Linked DNA regions of Homo sapiens: region 1 is linked to region 2. The links come from fine-mapping of genetic effects on gene expression. A gene starts in region 2. The other region holds a variant in brackets. All regions are shown on one strand. Distances are from middle to middle. Region 1 overlaps ZNF385C (zinc finger protein 385C). Region 2 holds the start of ZNF385C (zinc finger protein 385C).

Evidence for each region.
Region 1: its variant is fine-mapped to the expression of ZNF385C in anterior cingulate cortex (GTEx, PIP above 0.99). The same link has a PIP of 0.9 or more in amygdala, aorta, atrial appendage, breast, cerebral cortex and esophagus mucosa.

What each region holds. Positions count from the first base shown.
Region 1 is chr17:42,032,118-42,043,708 of GRCh38, forward strand. It overlaps ZNF385C (zinc finger protein 385C), which reads right to left. Exons shown (of 9, transcript NM_001392013.1): 3 at 5,620-5,768; 4 at 2,108-2,218. It overlaps C17orf113 (chromosome 17 open reading frame 113), which reads right to left. Exons shown (of 3, transcript NM_001358661.2): 2 at 10,717-11,446; 3 at 6,115-9,072. The coding sequence starts at 11,259. The coding sequence ends at 7,588. Among named protein-coding and RNA genes, the nearest start is that of C17orf113, 13 kb to the right of the region's middle. The variant C/T (reference allele first, on the strand shown) is at 5,695.
Region 2 is chr17:42,092,347-42,103,937 of GRCh38, forward strand. ZNF385C (zinc finger protein 385C) reads right to left here and starts at 6,127. Exons shown (of 9, transcript NM_001392013.1): 1 at 6,064-6,127. It overlaps DHX58 (DExH-box helicase 58), which reads right to left. Exons shown (of 14, transcript NM_024119.3): 12 at 11,262-11,452; 13 at 9,870-9,966; 14 at 9,065-9,600. The coding sequence ends at 9,415.

The DNA of each region.
Region 1 (11,591 bases), 60 kb before region 2:
TGGCGCCATCTCAGCTCACTGCAACCTCCGCCTCCCGGGTTCAAGCGATTCTTCTGCCTCAGCCTCCGGGGTAGCTGGGACTACAGGCGCCCGCCACCACACCCGGCTAATTTTTTGTATTTTTAGTAGAGACGGGGTTTCACCATATTAGCCAGGATGGTCTCGATCTCCTGCCTCGTGATCCACCCGCCTCAGCCTCCCAAAGTGCTGGGATTACAGGCGTGAGCCACCACGCCTGGCCACTAACTACATCTTTAGGCAAGTAACATCTCTCTGAGCCTGAGTCTCCTCACCCATAAACCCTGTGATGATAATACTGACCTCATGGGGTTGTCAGAATTACATGGGAACATGAATTACAAGGGCCGAGTACATAGAGTAGGTGCTCAATGAATGTTAGTTATCAAGTGTATCAATGCACAAATGGAGAAAGCAGAGCAATCCCCACACTTTGGGGTGTATGTACCCCAGAACATTCATCCCTTTGTTCATTTGTTCAACAAGTCATTACTGAGCATTTGCTATTTGCCAGGCACTGTGCCCGGGGTCCGGCAGGAAGAAGAATGGTTCCTCCCTCAGAACGAATTCTCTCCTCCATCTTTTTTTTTTTTTGAGACGGAATCTCGCTTTGTCACCCAGGCTGGAGTGCAACGGGAGCAATCTAGGCTCACTGTAACCTCTGCCTCCTGGGTTCAAGCGATTCTCCTGCCTCAGCCTCCCGAGTAGCTGGGATTACAGGCACCTGTCACCACAACTGGCTGCTTTTTTTTTTTTCTTCTGTATTTTAGTAGAGATGGGGTTTCACCATGTTGGCCAGGCTGGTCTCTAACTCCTGACCTCAAGTGATCCACCCACCTTGGCCTCCCAAAGTGCTGGGATTACAGGCATGAGCCACCACGCCCAGCCTCTCCTCCATCTCTTGCAGGACTCATGGAACCAGAAGGCCTGAAGGGAATCCTCAAATCTGGTCTGTCAGTGTCCTCCCTCCAAGGGTCCTCACTTGCTGCTCCCCGGCCCACCTCCTTGAAACATGGGAAAGACAGGCCCCCATGGCCCCTCCCTGGATGCTATACCACAGCAGTTCTGCTGGCATCCAACCGAAACCCCAGATTGCCTAACAGGAGGTAGACCTTCCCTGGGAGGCCAGAATGAGGTTCCTCCTCTACCTAGTGGTAAGATGTAGTAGAAAGGGGTAGGCTGTAGTAGAAAGTCATAGACCTTGGGGTCAGCCAGGCCTGGATTCATATCCCAGCTTTGCTACTTACCAGCTGTGTGGTCTTAGGCAAGTCACTTAACCTCTCTAAGGCTCACTTTCCTCATCTGAAAATCGGGGATTATAATAGCGCCTCTAGGCCAGGCGCGGTGGCTCACACCTGTAATCCCAGCATGTTGGGAGGTTGAGGTGGGTGGATCACTTGAGCCCAGGAGTTCGAGACCAGCTTGGGCAACATGGTGAAACCCTGTATCTGCCAAAAATATAAAAAAATTAGCCAGGCGTGGTAGCACATGCCTGTAATCCCAGCTACTAGGGAAGCTGAGGCACAAGAATCACTTGAACCCTGGAGGTGGAGGCTGCAGTGAGCCAAGATTGCGCCACTGCACTCCCGCCTGGGTGACAGAGTGAGACCTTGTCTAAAAAAACAAAACAAAACAAAAAAATCCCGCCTCCACCCGTCTCACAGATGTATCATGAAAACTATTATTTAAGGGGATGGGCATGATCACATTCTGTAAACTCTCAGGTGCCTTAAGAGCTCAGCTCCAGACCAGGAGCTGATGAGATGGGCCACTGGGACCTGGAGTGGAGGAAGGGCAGTCTTCTCTCTTGCAGAAGGATCCAGAACACAGGAGAGAGGCCTGGGGGGAAGGAAATGGAATCCCACTGGGCTACAGCTGGGCAGAAGGGGAAGGGGCAGAAGAATCTAGAGAGAGGAGAGGATGCGATGGTTAAAGGACCAAGAGTGCCTCTTCTGCAGCCAGGGTGGAAAATACCGACCACAGCCCCTTTGCCACTGATATTCCTCCCAGAAGGACTCTGAAAGCCCAGCCTCCAGCCCTCTCCCTGCCCAGCCCCCTCCCCAGACCTGCTTTCACTACTTTGTCTCACCGCTGAGTTGAACCTCAGGTGACAGATGTTACAGGAAATGAACAGCTTCTTCTTCAGAGGGGAGGGGACACCAAACGTGTGGCTGATGACAGCTTTCTGGACCGGGTCCATCTGTGAAGGGAGTGGGAGGGCATAATAACTCTGGGGTTGGCTTGGGAAGCAGGGGTCGGGGGCAGCACAAAATGCCCAAAACTAAAGATGACTGAAGAGGGCCTTGGTCAGCTTCTAGGAAGAACTTTTCCATCCTGTGGATGTTGGAAAGAGAAACAGCTGGGCCAGGCGCGGTGGCTCACACCTGTAATCCCAGCACTTTGGGAGGCCGAGGCAGGCAGATCACCTCAGGTTGGGAGTTCAAGACCAGCCTGACCAACATGGAGAAACCCCATCTCTACTAAAAAAAAAATACAAAATTAGCCAGGTGTGATGGCGCATGCCTGTAATCTCAGCTACTCGGGAGGCTGAGGCAGGAGAATTGCTTGAACCAGGGAGATGGAGGTTGCGGTGAACCGAGAGCAGGCCATTACACTCCAGCCTGGGCAACAAGAGCGAAACTTCGTCTCAAAAAAAAAAAAAAGAAAAGAAAAAGAAAAAGAAAAGGAAAGAAAGAAGAAGAAACAGCTGCCTGGGTGCAGTGGCTCACGCCTGTAATCCCATCACTTTGGGAGGCCAAGATGGGTGAATCACCTGAGGTCAGGAGTTCAAGACCAGCCTGGCCAAGAGAAACTCCTTCTCTACTAAAAATACAAAAATTAGCCAGGTGTGGTGGCACGTGCCTGTAGTCTCAGCTACTCAGGAGGCTGAGGCAGGAGGCTTGAACCTCAGAGGCAGAGGTTGCAGTGAGCTGAGATTGCGCCACTGCACTCCAGCCTGGGCAACAGAGTGAGACTCTGTCTCAAAAAAAAAAAAAAAAAAAAAGAGAAGAGAAAAGAAAAGAAAGGAAAAGAAAAGAAAAGAAAAATACACAGCCTCTCCCGGCTGTCTTTATTTGTCAGCCTAGGCTTCTGCTTGGAAGCAGGGGAATGGCCAGAGTGCCCTGCATGTTTCTGGGACATAGAACCATGTCCTGGTGATCACCTTGGCATCTCTTGGTGCCCCTTAGGTCATTATTTTTGTTTTTTGTTTTTCTCCTTTGCAATAATTACAACTATTGGGACAGAGAGTTGGAAACAAGGAGAGGCAGGGAAGAGACAAAGAACTCGTCTGTTGGAATTTCCTCTCCCATCACCCAGGCTTCATGCAGGGACCTGTGGGCTGGGGGAAGATAAGTCCTATCTCATCAGCTCTATCACTGTCACAGGGCCTGAGGCTGCTGACGACCTTTTTTTTTTTTTTTTTTTTTTTTTATAAGATGGAATACTGCTCTGTCGCCCAGGCTGGAGTGCAGTGGCATGATCTCAGCTCACTGCAACTTCCACCTCTCAGGTTCAAGTGATTCTGCTGCCTCAGCCTCCCGAGTAGCTGGGATTACAGGCGCCCACCACTACGTCTGGCTAATTTTTGTTATTTTTAGTAGAGACAGGGTTTCACCATGTTGGCCAGGCTGGTCTCGAACTCCTGCCCTCAAAATGATCCGCCTGCCTTGGCCTCCCAATGTGCTGGAATTACAGGTGTGAGCCACCGTGCCCAGCCATGACGACCTCTCTTGAGAGAGTGAGAGCCACAGCCAGGGGAGGTGGGGGGCCAGTAGGGGGCAGGGAGCAGCAAGTGGAGGCCTAAGGTTCCCCAAGGAGTAGGATCGTTTCTTTGGAATATTAATTTGGATTTTTTTTCTTTTCCTTATTATTTTTTTGAGATGGAGTCTCCCTCTTGTCGCCCAGGCTGGAGTGCAATGGCGGAGCCAAAATCTTGCAACCTCCGCTTCCTGGGCTCAAGCGATTCTCCTGCCTCAGCCTCCCAAGTAGCTGGGACTACAGGTGCCCACTACCATGCTCGGCTAATTTTTGTATTTTTAGTAGAGATGGGGTTTCACCATCTCTGTTGGCCAGGCTAGTCTCAAACTCCTGACCTCAGATGATCAGCCCACCTCAGCCTCCCAAAGTGCTGGGATGACAGGCATGAGCCACTGCACCTAGCTTCTTTTCCTTATTTTAAATCATTTTTTTCTTCTATAGAATTAAGGCTTTATGTTCCCTTTTCTCAGGAAGTTGGGCCAAATGCAGCTGTCTGAACTTGTCAAGAACTTTCCAGGCTGGGCGTGGTGGCTCACACCTGTAATCCCAGCACTTTGGGAGGCCGAGGTGGGAGGATCCCTTGAGCTCCAGAGTTTGAGACCAGCCTGGGTAATATAGTGAGACCTCATCTCTGCTTATATAAAAATAAAATAAAATAAAAAAGGAACTTTCCAAACCTTCCCAAGAAAAGAAAACAGAGCTTAGAGAGAAGAACATGGGTGCAGAAACTTCCCTGAGAACAGAAAGTGGTTCAAATTTTCACAGCACCCAGGGCCAGCAAGGGGCTCAGGGGACAGGACCTCAGAGGAGAATGGCCTGCAGGGGCCCCCTGCAATTGGAACCATGCCATTCAACAGTGAGCCTGTCAGCAAGCGACAGCAAGGACTCAAGACCAGAGGACCACCCCCCAAATGCCTCAGACTCCTTAGGACCTCTGTCTAACTCTGGAGGGTGGGAGGGAAGGGATTCCTAAGTGTGACTGAGGTGGAGTTTGCCACCATCTGCTCAGGATGGGGCATGCCACACCCATGATTTCACTTGAGTTTTCAAAATTTAAAAAAACAGAGATGGTTGCTGATCCCTCATATAGTGAATTAAAATTCATATACTTGTTATGCACACGTGTACAAGGAAATGTACAGACTAGGACACACACACAGCACAGAAGCTTCAGGCAGTTACAAATGCTCAGACAAGCAGAACAATTCACACTCATGCACACAAAGGGCACATGACCACAGGTAAACTCACAATCACCCAAGCCACACAAAAACACGCATGCTCAGAGGGCAGATACACGCCAAACACACAAAAGACACAAGGACACAATAAACCCTCAGATTGTGCAGGCACATACCTTAATTACATAAAATTACCCATGCACAAAGAGTTGTTTACAAACACACGTTGGACACCAACACACAAACTCACATCCACATATAACATACAAAACCTATAGAAACTACAACAAAAAGGCACAGGTTACACACACACACACACACACACACACACACACACACACACACGTCATCCACAGGAGCGCCTACACAGAAGCTTAAGTGGAATGCACAGACTACAGGCCCTTGCAGGCCCAGCAGCTATGATGGTGGGGGTGGGGAAAGGGCTGACACCATCTTGTTCCCCAGCCTAAGAGAGAGCGGGTCCCTCTCTTAGGATCCCAAATAGGGGTCCCTATTTGGGGAGCACCTATCCCCTCTGGGGGATGTTGGAGAAAAAGCTCCTGGTTAGACCCAGCTGCTGAGAGCTGGACCCTCTGAACCCACCTTCTGTGCCCACCCACAAGCTTGTGTGCATGCCCCCACCCGCCAGCCCAGCCCATACCGTGCTGAAGTTGGGGAAGAGACTGAGCGGGGCAGCGCCATTGAAGTGGAAGGCGAGCAAGTGCTTGAAGTCCAG[C/T]GGGGGCTGCAGAGGCCGGGTGGGCAGGGGCAGGGAGGCCAGCAGGGGGCTGGGGGCGCCGGAGGCCGGGCCTGCTGCAGGAGGAAGAAGGGCAGGGTCTGAAATGGGCTCTGTCCTACCCCCGTGGCCAGAACAAGAGGCGGGTGGGCTTCTTGGGTGTGGAGCTGGGCAGAAACCTGTGTCTCTCTTCACAGAGTGGCACCAGCCAGACCCATAGTGATTATAGCCCCCTTCTCTGTGCCCTTCCTCCCCACAGCTGGGGAAGCAGAGGCAGGGAGTCCACAGTTGAGGCTCCCAGCCCAGAGGGATGACCCTCCTGCCCCTACTGAGGCAGCATACTGAACCCCAGGGCAGCCCAGCCAAGAGAGGGACAGAGGGGTCTGGGCAGGCCCTGACACACACACCACCATGGAGACTGCATGATGTGCTGGGATTCCATTTTATTGCAAATTAAACTCAAACCCAGGGGTATTAGGAAAAGGCTAGCCCTCGCCCCTCTCACTCTCTAACTATCCTCCCTCCCTCCAGATCCCCAGGATTTCATGGCCAGGGCTGACAGGAGGGAATGGGAAACCCATGGGCTCTGAAGGGATGTGCTCCCCAGCTCTGATGAGGCCTAAACTGCTTCCCCCAGGAGGTAAATAAGCCAACATTCCTGGGTTGGGCCTCGACGCCAGTCCTTGGAGGTGGCAGGTACAGCACTGTGGTTTTGCAGTCTTTGGTCTTAAAGGTCTGAGGCAAGGGCAGGGGAGGGGTAGGAACTTGGAGAGCAACTGGACTTTGAGGAAGAAAATATCAGAAAAAAAAAAAAATCCAGCCCATCTGGGGCTTTTTTCGACCCTGTCATTGCAAAACCAAAAGTAGTCCTTTTAGATGTTTGTGTGGTAACACTATGAAAGATAGCATAGATTTATTTCACATTTGTAGGTTTTTATGTCTATATACACAGTTATACACAGAAAAGGCCTGAGGCTGCCTATTGGTGAGGAGGGAAGGAAGGGAACCACTATCTCTCTGGAACCATTGGCCCTTGAACCACCAGCTTGTGTACAGAGAGGACACTGTGCTGTGTGTCAGAAACAAGCACGGTCATCTACTCCCCAGTCATAGCTGAAGAGAAGAGACACTGCCAGGAGTGGGGCTAAGAAACAGCCAAGGACCAGACGCAGTGGCTCATGCCTGTAATCCCAGCATTTTGGGAGGCCGAGGCAGGTGGATCACTTGAGGTCAGGAGTTCGAGACCAGCCTGGCCAACATGGTGAAACCCTGTCTCTACTAAAAATACATAAGTTAGCCAGGCATGGTGGCAGGCGCCTGTAATCCCAGCTACTCAGGAGGCTGAGGCAGGAGAATTGCTTGAACCCAGGAGGCAGAGGTTGCAGTGAGCCAAGATCACACCACTGCACTCCAGCCTGGGCGACAGAGCAAGACTCCATCTCAAAAAAAGAAAAAAAAAGAAAAGAAAAAGAAAGAAACAGCCAAGGACCAAGGACCAGTGTCCGTTCCCTCAGCCACTCAATTTCCAAGACCTAGTCTTCCTTCCCCAAGCCAAAAACTCCCATCTTTGGGGGGACCCAAACTTGCCCCGAGTCCAGAAGGGAAAAGGGTGAGCTACTCCTCATCTAACTGTGTAAAGGCCAGGAATGATTTAGGGTACCCCAGATCCTAGCATCTCTGCCCACCCGCCCAGGCCCCTCTTGAGCCAGTCCCTTCCTCCACAGCCCACAGGGTGGGGGGGGTTGGTGGGAAGCTCCAGAAGGGCGGGTGGATGGCCTCAGGCCCCTGGGAGGCTGCAGTCAGCAGATCATCTTGGGTGCAGCATGGTCAAGTCTAGGTTGGCCCTTACAGTGCCCAGGGCCCCAGGCTGGATGGGCCGAGGGAAGGAGGCCACCCTCAGGTGAGCTGCGACCCCAGGAAGCCCTCTCCCCACCCACTCTCTAAGAACTCCACAGCCAACCCGAAGTCAAACTCGTGCAGCGGGGGCCCATCCACTGCGATCTTCACCATGTGGCCCCCCCGGCCTTCCCCGGCCCCACTCTGCCCCCACCACCGCAGCTCCCGGCTGCGGCCGACCTTGTCCAGCAGGCCAGCGCCCGCGGGCAGCGCCAAAGCCAAGGCGGCTAGGGCGGCGAAGTCGGGGAAGAGCTCGTGCAGCTCCGAGTGCGCGCACGCCAGCTGGGTGCACAGGGCCCGCGGGCCGAGCCGCCCAAGGCCGAATACTACGCGCTTAAACAGCGCGAAGTCGCCCAGCGCCCGCTGGCGCACCACGGCAGGAGCAAAGCCGCGCAGCAGCACCCGCAGCGCCCCCTCGCCATGCGTGCCCAGCTCCTCCGGCGCCTGCGGGTAGCGTCGGGGGTCGAAGATCGCTGCGAAGGCGGCCACGGCGTCCAGCGAAGGCCCGGGGTAGGAGTCCTGTAGGCCCTTCCGCATGGAGTCCAGGAAGGATCCCCGGAGCCACTCCAAGCCCCGGACCGCAGCCTCGGAGTAACCGAGCAGCTCCACGCCGCGGTAGGTGCAGCGTCCGCTGCTGGCGTCAGGGTCCATGGATGCCAGTTCCTGCAGGAAGCCCTGGAGGCGGGCCCCACCTGAGCCGCGCTGAGCTTGGAGGGAGGCCGCAGCCGCCATCACCAGAGGCTGCAGCAAGGCCAAGTCCGGCTCTTCTGCCTGCAGGACAAGGGAGAGCTTCTGCACAGAGGGCAGGGCATCCAGCAGCAGGTGGGTGAAGGCCACGAAGGTGAACTGGCGCAGGGCCAGGGCCAGTGACCCCGCCACAGGTGAGGCAAGGGCTGCAGCCTCCAGGGTGGGCACCAGGCCAGGCCAGGCCTCGGCCACTGCTTCCACTACAGGCAGCAGGGAGGCCCAGGGCACTGGCCGAGGCCCTGCCAAGTCAATAGCTGCAAGGTCCAGTGCTGCCCGGAGCTCAGGGACCAAGTGGGAACTAGGGCCACCATGGAGGCGGAATAGGGCATCCAATATGCTCTCATATTGACCCAAGTAGGCCGGGGGCTCAGGATCTGTCCGGCCAGGGAGACAATGCAGCTCTGCCAGCAGTGGGCAAGTGGCCCGGAGCTGTGGGCCCACACTCCCCAGGCGCTCACTGGGGAGGCTTGAGCTGAGCCAGGCCAGCTTGGGTGCAGATACGCCGAAAGCCTGCAGGATGTCCAAGAGCTGGCCAGCAGTGGCCTCGCCCTCCTGTAGCTCCACACTGCCCAGGAAGGTGGTGGCGGGCTGGCCATCACAGGGGGACACTGAAGTGGCAAACAGGGCCAGGCTGTGTGACTCCGGCCAGTCTCTGGTCTCGTCCAACACCAGCCCCACATATGGGGATGCCTTCAGGCGCTGGCAGGCCTCTGTGTGCAAGACACTGGCAATGGCCACCTGGGACAGCCAGGGAAAGAAAGGGAGGGAGGACTGAGTTAGGCTTGTCCTGAGAGGCGGAGGCAGGCAGTGCGGGGTGGTGGAAAGAGCCCAGGCCTTGAGGTTAGACAGACTTAGGGACTAATCCTGGCTTTGCCACTTACTGGCTGTGCTACCTTCGGCCAGTCACTTCACCTCTCCGAGCCTCAGTTTTCTCATCTCTACAGCTCCTGGCCTGTCTAAGAATATCCTCCCACCCCGGCCTCCCACCACACCCGGTCTAGTTTTCTCAGCTCTTATACCTGCTGTCAGCTAATACCAGCCCGAAATCTTCTCAAAGCTTGTTGTGAATTATAAACATCAACTTTTGTTGTGGTAAAAGCACTTTATGAATCATAAAGAGCTCTAGGAAAGCTAGTTTTTTCACTGTGTTTTTCTATAGCATCATCCTAGTCTGCCCTATTCCTGGGGGTCTCCCTCCACTGTCCAGCTCAGTGATTAACTGATAGGCACACTCACTCCCAACTCCCAACCAGTCACCCTGGGTCCCAGCTGTGTGCTGTTTCTCTATTTGTCATCTCTGTAGGATGAGATCCAACTCCCCCACCTCCAACCCAGCCCATAGGACTTACACAGTTAGTACCTAGGACAGAGCTGCAATTTGCATGCTTCCAGGGGCCATGTGAGTGATATTGAGCTTGGAGAGGGCCAGGGATAAGCCAGAGGGAACACCCTGCTCTCCAACTCCAGCACATCCTGCTCTGAGAGCATGGGGACCTTGCTTTTCAACACAAGTCACAAATCTAGATTTTTATATGTAATCTCCTGAGTTTTTTAAAAGTTGAAACACATTCGAGTTTTTCAAAAACATTATGAAAACCAATTAAACAGGCTCAGCACAGAAAACAGCCCCAAAAGAAAACTAAGTCAAAAGTCATTTCCATTTCCATTCCAGCACTTTGCGGGGCCAAGGCAGGAGGATTGCTTGAGGCCAGGAGCCCAAGACCAGCCTGGGCAACATAATGAGACCCCATCTCTATGTTTAAAAAAAACCAAAAAACAAAAAACAGAGGCCAGGCGCGGTTGCTTACACCTATAATACCAGCACTTTGGAAGGCTGAGGTAGGCAGATCACCTGAGGTCAGGAGTTCGAAACTGGCCTGGCCAACATGGTGATACCCCGTCTCTACTAAAAATACAAAAATTAGCTGAGCGTGGTGGCACATGCCTATATTCCTAGCTAATAGGGAGGCTGAGGCAGGAGAATCACTTGAGCCAGGAAGGCAGAGGTTGCAGTGAGCTGAGATCACGCCACTGCTCTCCAGCCTGGGTGACAGAGTGAGATTCCTCAAGAAAAAAAAAAAAAATTAAATACATCTGTGGGTCAATCAAGCCTCCAGGCCACCAGTTTGCAACGTCTGATTTAGGCAGTGAGAAGAGTGCCCCTGTGCCCGCTAAGAGGCCTGGTCTGGCCTCTTCACTGTTGTATCCCTGCAGCTGGCCCAGGACCAGGGACATAGGCTCTCAGGGAAGGTTCTGAAGGGTGAAGATATGAATGAAATGCCCTAGCTGCTCCCCAAGGAGCTGGCATGCTGGGGCTGTTCCCAGGTGGCTCAGTGTCCTCCCTTCCCAAGCCCTTCCCCCATACTTCTGGCTGTCACCCACCTGCATGTCCCTCACCCTCCTGGGACTGTAGTAATCGCCATGCTCTGTGCCCAGCAGTGCCTGGCACAGGTTGAACCTCTGCAGCTCGAGCAGGGCAGAGCAGCGGTCATTGGGCACATCCTCCTTTGCCATGCAGTACACAGTAGTCAGCACAGCCACTTTGGCCGGGTCTAACTCCACCTTGACGCCCCTGGAGGCAGGGGTCGTAGCCAGGCCTGGGCAGGCCCCTCCACCTTCAGCCTGGCCCTCAAAAGGGGGCTGGCCCTGGTTGACAGCCAGAGCCTGGCGGTGGGCTCCTGAGGTCACGTGGCGCAGCAGGGCGTGGCGCTGGAAGTTGTCTGTGCCCACAGTGAAGGCGTTTTCGGCTTTGCCATGCTTGTTCCGTACCAGGGCCTGGCGGCACTCGAGGCAGAACATCAGCTTCCGCTCATAGTCAAAGTCCAGCCAGGTAAACTCCTCTTTCCAGTGCTCGTTGAAGTAACGCTTACACTTCTTGTTGGAGTTGGAGGCCTCTCCCGCTGGTTTCTTCCCTGGGGGCACCATTCTTGCTCTCTCAGCAAGGAACCCCCAACCCCCACCTGAATGCTCTTGCCCCCCTGCCTCCCCCACACACAGGCACCTCCCTTGACAAGGAGAGTTGATGGGGAGGCAGGCTGGGGGCAGCCCGCCAGGCTAACAGGGCCCATCCATCTAAGCCTGGAGAGTTTATTCCTGCTCTGCCGGTGGGAGACTGGAGATGAAAGAGACAGGCAGAGGTGTTAGGGGTCTGTCATGGTAGGGGTGGTTTAGGGTGGAGTGGTAGGCTTCATGCTGCCCACAGAGTCCTCCCAGCTGAGGGGTGGAGGGACTCACTGGGGCAGGGGCTCTGGGCAGTG
Region 2 (11,591 bases):
GCTGAGACTGCACCACTGCACTCCAGCTTGGGCAACAGAGCAAGCGAGATTCGTGTCAAAAAAAAAAAAGAATTTTGATCTCTGCAGGTGCTCATAGGATGGGATGAGGCAGTTCTGTATACTGCAAAGTTCTGTACAAAATCAGGGGATAGGAGGCCCTTTGGGGTCCTAGGGAGATTGTTCTGGAGATGGATTCTTACAGGGGCCCCGAGCCCATCAGAGAATTATTCCTCTGCTAAAGTCTCACTGGAGGACTGGCTCAAGCCTCTGCCAACAGGGAGAGTGGGCAGGCTTCTCCCACATTCCAAAGACCACACCCCATGTGTCCCTCTTTAGGAACCCCTAGAAAACCCAAGGGTTCCTGTTCCCAGTGCCTTTTCCTGGCATTTCCTCTCCTCTCAGCAGGGAGTGGGGGAGTGTCCCATCCCCATCCTGCCCTCCAGGGCCAGAGCACTCAACTTTGGGGCTGGGGAGGGGGTCAGCTGGCATCAGATGCGGGACTGAACAGAGCTGAGATCAGAAGGGTAGAGAAGTCTGGGGCTTGGGATGTAGGAGAGACATCTGGGAGCGGGGGGCGGGGGTCCGGGGAAGGCTGGACAGGGCAGGGGGCAAGGCCAAAGCTGGGTCTGGCCTCTAGCCTGGGCATCTAAAGTGAGAAGAAGGACCTGTGGAGTCAGTCCTTGCCCCACCCAAGGAAATCTTAATCCAATAAACAAACAGCCAACACAGCCGCTCCTGTGCAAGAAGCCGTGGGAGCGATGGGGAGGCCACAGAGGTGGGGAGGCCAGGAGAGGGCAGGGAGGCTGTTTAAACAGGCCCCTCGGCCTGGGGCAGTTGGCAGAAATATTTGGAACAGGGTGGGGAGCACAGCTGTGGTTTGGAGCAGGAAGCTGGGGCCCGGGGTGGGTGGGCTGAGCTTGACTGCTTCCAGGAGAAAGAAAAGTGTCAATTCAGCCCCACTCTGGTCAACGCCTCTTCTGAGGGAGACTCCAAGTCCCAACACCCTTCCCTCAGTTCAAGGTCAATCAGGTCAACCAGACAGACAAGGGGCTCTATCCCTTATCTCCCAGAGTGATGACTCTGGACCCCCAGCCCTGCTCCCAGGCCTATGACCCTGGGCCTCATCACTGAAGAAAGTTTCAGAGTTCAGAGCCGAAACCCCGGAGTTCTCAACAGAGGAGTTAGAGGAGATGAGCCATCAGCTCTTTATTTTTTTTACTTTTTATTTTATTTTATTTATTTTTTTTTTTTTGAGAGAGGGTCTCACTCTGTCGTCCAGGCTGGAGTGCAGTGGCACGATGTTGGCTCACTGCAACCTGTACCTCCCAGGCTCAGGCAAATCTCCTGCTTCAGTCTCCCGAGTACCTGGGATTAAAGGTACCCATCACCAAGCCCGGCTAATTTTTTGTACTTTTTTAGCAGAGACGAGGTTTCACCATGTTGGCCAGGCTGATCTCTAACTCCTTGACCTCAAGCAATCCACCCACCTTGGCCTCCCAAAGTGCTGGGATTACAGGTGTGAGCCACTGCACTCGGCCCATCCACTCTCCCTAGGACGTGATATTCCCTTTCCTGCCGCCTTGCCTGGCAGTGGAGGAGCCCAGAAGTGATCGTGGCCCCCTGGGAGGCATTATCACCTTTTTTTTTTTTTTTTGAGATGGAGTTTCACATTTGTTGCCCAGGCTGGAGTGCAATGGCGCAATCTTGGCTTTCTGCAACCTCTGCCTCCCAGGTACAAACGATTCTCCCACCTCAATCTCCCAAGTAGCTGAGATTACAGGCATGCGCCACCGCGCCCAGCTAATTTTGTATTTTTAGTAGAGACGGGGGTTCACCATGTTGGCCAGGCTGGTTTCGAACTTCTGACCTCAGGTGATCCACCCGCCTCAGCCTCCCAAAGTGCTAGTATTACAGGCGTGAGCCACCGTGCCTGGCTGTCACCTTCTTTCAGGACTCTTGGCTCTCCTTTTGCCGAGACTCCTCAAGAGACTAAGGCAGAGAGTCAGAGGGATACATGTCCAGACTGACAGGCAGATATAGAGAGAGGTGAAGATACAGAAAGACCCACCCAGAGAGATAGCCACGCAGTCAGACACTGAGAGTGGGAGTGTGAGAGAGAGGGACAGAGAGAGAAGGGGTAGACAGAGGAGGCAGAGAAAAAGGAAGAAGAAAAGACATAGAAAGACTCACAGAAAAAAGAGCTAGACGGGTGGAGAGGAGAGACAGAGATAACAAAGGACAGGGTCAGGAGAGGGGAAAGGACACAGATGGGGAGCACACAGGAGGCGCAGGGCCAGACACACTCACAGGCCGAAGCAGAAAGAGGCTCACGAGAACTACACAAGGACAGACAGCCTCAGGACCCAGAGACACTCTCCTGGGAGACGTGGGGGGAGCCAAAGTGCTTGGGGGTCGAGCCCCACTGGGGGTGGCCTCACCAGGGCAATGCTGCTGCCTCCTGTCCCAAAAGCTTAACCAACCGCTGCCGGCATCTGGCCCCCAGCCACCCTCTAGTAAGCCAGCCCTTGGCCACTGGAGCCAGTGGGTCACCCAAGGTGAATGAAAAGTCACCAATAAGGGACAGTGAGAGTGTGACTGGGGTGAAGGTATGGGTGTCACAAGCCATGTGTGTCAGGGTGGGTCTGACCTGGGGTGGGGTTTAGGAGCGCACAACCCTATACACAGACCTCTGGGGGTTAGTGCAGGCGGGCATGCGTACCTGAGTGAGTTTGTGAGTGTCTGTACACGTGTGTGGATCCAGTTCCATTAAGAGCCTCACGATGCTAATGAGGCCAACGTGGCAGGCTGTTCCTCAAATAGCCCAATCAGAAACAATGAGTGAGCAGAGACAGCCACAATAAAGGTTTCATGCCTCTTCTGAACAGACGGTGTGTCCAGGTGCCACAGGGCACTTGACTACAGTCAACACCAGCGTACCATTCATTCCCGCTGGGGATGACCCCCGCCGCCTGGCCAGCTGACCCCACAGTCTCCCCTGTCCCAAGCCCAAACTCCAAACTCATGGGAGAACCCACATGATAGACACATGGGCCCTCCCGGGTGGCAGGCGCAGCTCCCTCTGAGAAGGGCAGCCAGAGGGATGGTGGGGTCCAACCCTGGCTTTCCCCCAGGCTAGCTTCCATCCCTCCTGCTGCTGCGGCCCCATTTAGCTCTCTCCTTGCTCCTGGGGTCCAGTGACCCACACCCTCACCACACACAGGAGAGAAGTAACCTCTCCTCCCCAGCCCTTCCCTCTCAAGCATCACAGGACATTAAAAAAAAAATTGTCCCAGTTTTGTGGTGGATAATGAGGTCAGGAGGCCCACAGGGGAACTGCTTGTTGATGACAACTGACAATCTTCATTTCACCTTGAAACTCCGTCCTGGTCCAGGTAAGCATGTTCTAAGCCCAGTTTTATAGGGGTGCTACTCTACTGGGGGACAGGGAGAGTGGGGAAGGAATTAACCAAATGGCAGCTGAAGTCACAGGCCCAGCCAGGCCCACCTGGAACACTCACAGGGCCTGGGGCAAGGGGACAAATGGCGGCCCACAGACATATGTCTAAATATTTAAAAGTTATAAATCAAGCCAGCAAACTGTGAAATATGTTCTAACCTCTCACCCTGACAAATACACCTTCATTAACAACCTGGAGGACCAGATACAAATTTGGATTTATCTGCCTCCTGAGCTTTACACATCAGAATGACTCTGTGCAGAGGAGACAGCTCCACTCGCACCCTGGCCACCCCCCTTCCTGCTGCCGGGTCCTGTCTGCACCACAAGGGACTCTTGTGCATGTATAAGGACACCCAGCCTCATGTCCTTGCTCCATCCACAGCCCCTGCAAATAGCTGTCCCTTCACTGTCCGTAGGGGTGCACACACTATTGGCATAACCTGTCCTGAGGCAGACAGGCCCAGGGAAGAGGCTGGCATGGGCTGGGAGCCAGATGGTGACCATCTAGGCAGGGACCTCCAGAGTCACAGGTATGGAGAATGTGGTCTTGGAGGGGACTCACAGTCTCATCCCCTCGGCCCTGCTGATGCCTCATCCCACAGGGAGAGGACTGGCAGCAGGAGGGCCAGAGTGGAGCCTTTGAAAGCCCCCAGCTTAGGGCATGGGCACTCCCTCCCTTGCCCAGGTTTAAGGGTGCTACTGAACTCAGCCTTCCCTGGCAGCCTAGAGATCAGGCCAGGGCCTGAAGCTGTCCTTTCACTGGAGGACAGCTTGGACAATCCCCAAACAGGACTTTCAGTCACTCGTATTATTTATCTTCCTGGAAAAATTTAGTGCGGCTTGATCCCAACTCCTGGAGGTGGGAGGGCAGAGCAGTGATGACAAGAGGGCATTTTTTTCAGGTTGGGTCTCCAAGCCAGAGCTTGTTCCACTGAGGCACAGCCCAAGTGAGCTCCTGCTGGTACTGGTCCCTGCCTTGGGCGGGGGCGGGGGGACTCTCTCCCCTCTACAGAGACAAAAGGCAACACAAACAAGGTGACTAAAAGAGGAGGAGGTGAGGGGCCCTGGGCAGCCCAGAGAGGTCCAGAGATCCAGGAACCAGCAGGGGGCAGGTTCCCCCTGGTAGGGGGGCATGCAGTGAAGGGCACTCTTTCTAGCCAAGCTTAGCTAAAAAAAAAAAAAAAAAAACCCTTCCACTCCCCCCTCCCCTGCTCGCTCTCACTCCCTGCAGATCGGCTTTGCTGTCCCACACATGAGGGGACACTGGTACTTTCTGAGCCCTCGCCAGGCTCCAGGCACTGTGCTAAGCGCTCTACATGTGTACCCTCATTTAACCCTTGCAGCCACTCTATGAGGTGGGTTCTATTATTATCCCCATTTTACAGGTGATTAAGTGAACTCAAAGAGGTTAAGAAACTTGTTCAAGGTCACGCAGTAGGTAGAGGTGTCAGAACTCAGCTCTAACTGACCCCAAAGCCCCCACTCTTTCCACTAGAGCACATGGCCTCCCAGAAGCAAGAAGCTGGCACAGACCCAGAAGGGATGAAGGTCGGATATGAGAACGAACTTCTGCCTCTGATGGTTTGTGTGGTGAAATGAGGCAATGGAATGGGGAATCTAGACAGACAAGGAAGCCCCCCTCCCCCCATTGTCACCCGTGTCTGTCCAAAGGCTTGCGATGATCTCAGGAAGGTCCCTGGGGTCCCAGCTGGACCCAGACAGCAATGTCCTGACTTCCCTTTGTTCTATAATCCAGGGTCCTCTGCTCTACTTCAACCCAGCACCAAGACCCAAAGGCTGCCTCTCCTTAGTGGCTCAGAGCTCTGAGCATCACATTCAAGCTGTCAGCCCAGGTCCTCCTCCTCCAGGAAGGCTTCCTCGAGGTCCTGGGAGGCAGGACCCCTTTCCTACAGCCCAAATCCCAACACTGAGGGTGCAAATGCTCCCCTGTCTGCAATAAGGCCACATCTGCGATCACCTTCCCCAGCCGGCTCTGTGACACAGACACAGAAAAGATCTACTGAGTTCCCAGACTTTCCGGGTTCCCTAGGCCATCGGGGTAATCCCCTGCTCACCCCCTTGTACCCAGATGTAAATAAATGATGCAGGTGCCCTGGGGCTCATTAGAAAATCCCAGGCCCCAGCTCAGCTATGCGGCGGCTTTTACCTCATTAGCCCACGGAACAGAAGCCCAGTTTGGGTCAAGCCATCACCCCCTAGGGTGGGGAAGAGGCTGCCCTTGGATGAGGCATGGCGCACTCTCAGTCAACGAGGTTCCTTACTCCGGACCCCCGTCCTCACCATCCCCAACCTGCCCCACTCCAGAAAGCTGCGTGTCTAATGCCCGGCTCTTTCTTTTCCATCCTTTGGAGCCCGCCTGGCATCAGGGATAACCAGCCAGGACCCTCTAACTGCCCCAGAGTTCAGTCCCGCCCAGCAGATGCCCAACGTCGGCGCTCAGAGCCGAGATAGGGATATCCTCACTGTCCCTTGGGGTCCCCCAATTTTGAGGCGAGAGGACCGGACAGGTGGAAGAGGCTGCCTCGTTCTCCCGCGCTGCCCTCGAGGTCCTCGGCGTGGACTAGCCCGCGTCGCCGTCTTACCTGCGGGGCAGAGACGGAGCCCGCCGCGGCCACCTGCTCTCGCCTGGCTGGGAACGCTGCGTGTGGGGCTGGCTGGGAGGGGCGGGGCCCGGCGGGGCAGGGGCGGGGCTGGGAGGGGGAGCCGGGCCGGCCCCTCCCTCGAGGCCCCGCCGGTGGGGTGCGCGGGCTCATTCAGGTGGGAAGTCCCGGGAGAGCATCTGAGCCACAGGGAGGGCCCGGAGCTCGAGTTCTGAAGGCTGGGAAGTTAGGACTCCAGGGGGTGCGGGGGGTGGGTGGGAATTCCCCGCTTCAGACAGCCTCGCCCAGATGCCCTGGAGAGGGTGACTTCATATAAAGACCCCTCACACGAAGAAGAAAGCTCAGAAACCTCTCCTGGCCTGAGTCCCCTTCCATCTGAGCTCTTCGGGCCTGGCAGGGTTGGGTGTGAGACGGGACACTCCTCTAAAGTAAGGGTGCCCTCTCCAGGGCTCAGCTGTGTAGGGGTTTAGGCCGCTGAGGGGGCCATTAGGCAACCAGACCATCTTTATCCTCAGCCCATCTCCCTCCCTGCCACACAGCCCCTCCTCCGCCCCCAGCGCCAGCCCAGGTCCCCCAGCTGTCACTGTTTAGCCCTGGAATGACAGGCGTCCTGACTCCGTGAGTCTAGCCACATTCAAGGCCTTTGAGCTTAGCACCCCTGAGCCCCTGCCCCCTCCCTCTGCCCCCAGTCGCTAATTTTATTGACCTGTAAAAGGCACGTTGCTGGCAGGCAGTATACTAACTGAAGGCAAAGTGGGGAGCGGATGGGCAACTCTCCCCCCGGGAAGGCAGCTGGAGATGGGACAGGAGGGAGGAGGAAGGAGACTCCTGGATCCAGGGCCAAGGACACTTTGAGAGGAGGAAGAGGGGGGCCTTGGGAAAGAGAAGTACACTGTCTATGGGAGATGGTAGCCAAAAAGACGGGAACGGGAATTTCAGCCCTCAATCAGACAAGAGGCCTACAGAAAAAAGAAAATGCTGGGAGAAGACAGGGTGCATTTCTCATCTACCTGGGGACAGAACCAAGAATGTAGCAGGAGGGAAGGAGGTTGGACGGCAGGAAGGACTGCCATCCTGCTCTCAAATCTCTGCCCTAGCCCCCTCCCTTCCTCTTGAAGGTGTCTCCTGCCTGCTGGGCCTTGTACTACAGAAATAGCCCTTTCCCTGATGAAGCAACCTAGATCTTGCCTTTCTTTTTCTTTCTTGTTAAAATGAGAACAGAAAATTTAGGCCTTTGTAATTTTCCCCACCCCCGTGCCTACCTGAGCCCACCCCTCAAACCCTGGATCTCAGCCTTTCCCCAGCCTAGGGGAGATGATCTGAGGGTTAAGGGAAGGTGGAGAGGGGAATATCGGGGTTGGAAGCTATTATGGGGTAGGGGGAGCAGGAAGCCCTCACACTCTTGATGGGCCTCAAGTTTAGACTGTTGATACCCTTTATGAATAAGGCTTAGGAGGGCTATTAAAGAGGAGTGTTTAAAACTTCTTTTATTTTTTTATTTTTGAGATGGAGTCTTACTGTGTTGTCCAGGCTGCAGTGCAGTGGCATGATCTCGGCTCACTGCAAACTCCGTCTCCCAGGTTCAAGTGAGTCTCCTGCCTCAGCCTCCTGAGTAGCTGGAATTACAGGGGCCTGCCACTATGTGAGGCTAATTTTTGTAATTTTTAGTAGAGATGGGGTTTCACCGAAATGGCCAGGCTTGTCTCCAACCCCTGACCCCAGGTGATCTGCCCACCTCGGCCTCCCAAAGTGCTGGGATTACAAGCGTGAGAAAATGCGCCTGGCCTAAAACTTTTAACACTAGGTCAGGCACAGTGGCTCATACCTGTGATCCCAGCACTTTGGGAGGATCACCTGAGCCCAGTAGTTGGAGATCAGCCTAGGCAACATAGTGAGAACTTGTCTGTACACTGCCCCTCTACCCCCCAAAAATTAGGTGTGGTGGTATACATCTGTAGTCCCAGGTACCAGGGAGGTTGAGGTGGGGGGATTGCTTAAGCCTGGGAGGTTGAGGCTGAAGTGAGCCATGATTGTACTACGGTACTCTAGCTTGGGCGACAGAGCGAGTCCCTGTCTCAAAAACAAAATAAGAACAAAAACAAAAAAAAAAAGGCCGGGCCCAGTGGCTCATGCATGTAATCCCAGTACTTTAAGAGGCCGAGGTGGGTGGATCACCTGAGCTCAGGTGTTTGAGACCAGCCTGTTGGGCAACATGGCGAAACCCTGTCTCTACCAAAAATACAAAAATTAGCCAGGCATGGTGGCAGGCACCTGTAATCCCAGCTACTTGGGAGGCTGAGGCAGGAGGATCACTTGAGCCCTGAAGGCAGAGGTTGCAGTGAGCTGAGATCGCGCCACTGCACTCCAGCCTGGGCGACAGAGTGAGACTGTCTCAAAAAAGCCAAACACTTTTAACACTAAAAATTACAAAGCAGGTCATTGGATGGGGAAGGGTGAGAGGTATGGATTTCAATGGGGAACCAGGAAACTTTTGTTGTTCTTTGAAAATTCCACTGGAAGAAACAGGACATTTTGAGGGTGATGGCTATGTTCATTATCTTGATCGTGGAGGATATGCATGTTAAAATGTATCCAGGCCAGGGATGGTGGCTCACGCTTGTAATCTCAGCACTTTGGGAGGCTGAGGCAGGCAGATCGCCTGAGGTCAGGAGTTTGAGAACTACCTGGCCAACATGGTGAAATCCCATCTCTACTAAAAATACAAGAAATTAGCTGGGCATGGTGGCGGGCACCTGTAATCCCAGCTACTTGGGAGGCTGAGGCAGGAGAATCGCTTGAACTCAGGAGGTGGAGGTTGCAGTGAGCCAAGATCGTGTGACTGTACTCCAGCCTGGGCAACAAGAGTGAAACTCCATGTCAAAAAATAAAACAATTTTAAAAAAGTACCCAATTGCACACTATACAAGCAGTTTATTTTCTACCAATTATATTCCAACAAAATTAAGACACCACACATTTTCTATCCCATTTTTTCATTTATTTTTATGAGGAGCCTCAAAAAATAGAAGTGGCCTTGGTAGGGAAGGAATGTCGTGATTCTGAGTACAGTATGGCAAATTCTTTTGCCTCAGTTTCCCTAACTCCATCCAGTGCATATGAAAATGTCTATGTGCGTACAAGGTAGGTCTGGACTAAGCTCTGGCCCTCCGGTTGTTTTCCCATTGCGGGAGCCTAAGCCAGGGTGCCCAGGACTCCTGTGTGGCTGGTGGGCCTGATGCCCACAGCTGATGATTCAGGAAGGAGGGGCCTGGAGTCTGCTGCAGACTCTCCCGCCCCCTACAGCCCAAACCGGGCACTGCAGCAATGAGGTGGTCAGTCCAGGGAGAGGTCCGACAAGTTCTCGGCACAATGCTGCAGGAAGTCAAAGTCAGGCACGGAGAAGGGCACGCGGGACCACTTTTTGGCCTGGATCCGCCCCTGAGGGGTCTCCAGCAGCATGCTGCGGACTTTGAGCACTGGCAGCTTCACTGACTTGTAGATCATCTGCAGACCCCAGACCTGGAGGTGAGACAGAGAGGGTAGGGTCTGGGTCTCTGGCCTCAGACTGGGCTTCTCTCCTCAAGTTGGAATTCCCTGAATACAGGGCCTTTTCCTCCCACCTGAGATGTCACAGACTGTGGGCTCCCTTAGGGAGGGGCTGGACCTCCCTCTTCAGACTGGAGGCCATGGGGTGGGACTGTCTCCCGTGTCCTAGTGAGGGCTCCCTGAGGGCCTCTGAAGACTGGGGCTGAGGACTCTGGGGCCTGGGACGTGGCCTAAGCTCTTACCTCCCCACAGTTCCTGCAGCTGATGACACCCCCAGGCTTCCAGTCCTTGAAGACTTTGTTGATGACCACAGGATCCCTGGAGACATTATAGTAGTTCCTGGAGAGGAAGGGGGGTGGCCACAGCCCTCATTGACCCTCCTCAGCCCCGGATCTCATGCCCTCCTGCCGGCCAAGTCTCTGCCTGGACCTTGGGCCTTCCTGCTGGTTAAGAGGCACAGACTTCCCAGGCCAGGAAATCCAATCTTTGGTGAGTTCTACCTGTGTGGCCTCCATCGCACGTTCCCTTGTGCCCAGGTTCAAGCCTCAGCATCGGTTACCTGGTCTTCACAGTCTCCTTATGGGTCTCTCTGCCTCCATTTTTACTCCCAATCCCAAGCCATCCTTCCACCAACTGCTAGAGGGATCTAAAAATATAAATCTGCCCTGACATTCTGTTCCTTAAAATCTATCCAAGATTCCTAAGAGGAACCTCCTGGATAAAGGCTACACTTTCACACCTGACCTTTCAAATCTTCCACGGGCTAGTCTGTCTTTTTCTAAATCTCATTATTCACAGTCCCTTCCACTCAGGTCAACTGGTGTCGCTTTTTTTTTTTTAAAGGCAGAGTCTCACTCTATTGCCCAGGCTGGAGTGCAGTGGTGCGATCTTGGCTTGCCTCCCGGGTTCAAGTGATTCTCATGCCTCAGCCACCCAAGTAGCTGGGATTACAAGCATGGGCCACCACGCCCAGCTAATTTTTGTATTTTTTTTTAGTAGAGAAGGGGTTTCAATATGTTGGCCAGACTGGTCTTGAACTCCTAACCTCAAGTGATCTACCCACCTCCGCCTCCCAAAGTGTTGGAATTACAGGCGTGAGCCACTGCACCTGGCCCTCCATGGTTACCTTCTCATTCGCTCACATTCAAACCAGACCCATTGAGACCTAGCTGAAATGCAACCTCCTCAATTGAGAAAATCTGTGTGAAGATCCTTGGCACAGTGGCCCGGAACACAGAGGGTAACATAATGAATGGATGGAGGATGGGGGAAGGTTACTCTCTAGGAGATAGTGGATGGAGGATGGCCCAGGGATGGCCAAGCTCTCTTGATATCTTCGGAATAGGTAGGACCAGAGGGTCAATGTGTGGTCTTTTGACACTTAGTATCCTGAATTCCAGTTCTTGCTCAACCAGATAGTGGCTGTGGGAACTTGGGCAAGTCACATAGCCTCTCTGAGCCTCTATTTCCTTGCCTGTAAAATGGAGACAGGGATAAAACCTGTCTAACCAGATTATTGTGAAAATGCAAAGTACTTGCTACAATGCTCTTTAGCTTCCCAAAGCTTCAAAGCACTGTCTGGATGGGAAGGATTCCCAGGCCCCCATCCCAGTAGCCCCTTCCACAGGTCTCACGAGAAGTTGGGGTTCACATTGACATGGTGGGTGCCCTCCACCTTCCGCAGGTCGCTGCCATGGCCCACAGCCACCATGCAGTTGATGCAGAGTAGCTGCACGTGCTCCACTGGGAACTGCTGCCGCTGGTTCTCCCGCTGGGCTGCCTGGGCCGCCCGCTTGGTCAAGGCTGCCTGCTGCAGATCCCGGATCTGGGGTGGGAGGAGACACCAGGCATGGCTGGGGCCTAAGAGAACGTTCCTTGGGGGACAAAAGGTTCCCAAAGAACTAAGATCATTTGTACCTGGAAGAGACTTTCCTTAACCCTCCCTGGAGCTTAAAAGAAGCTCT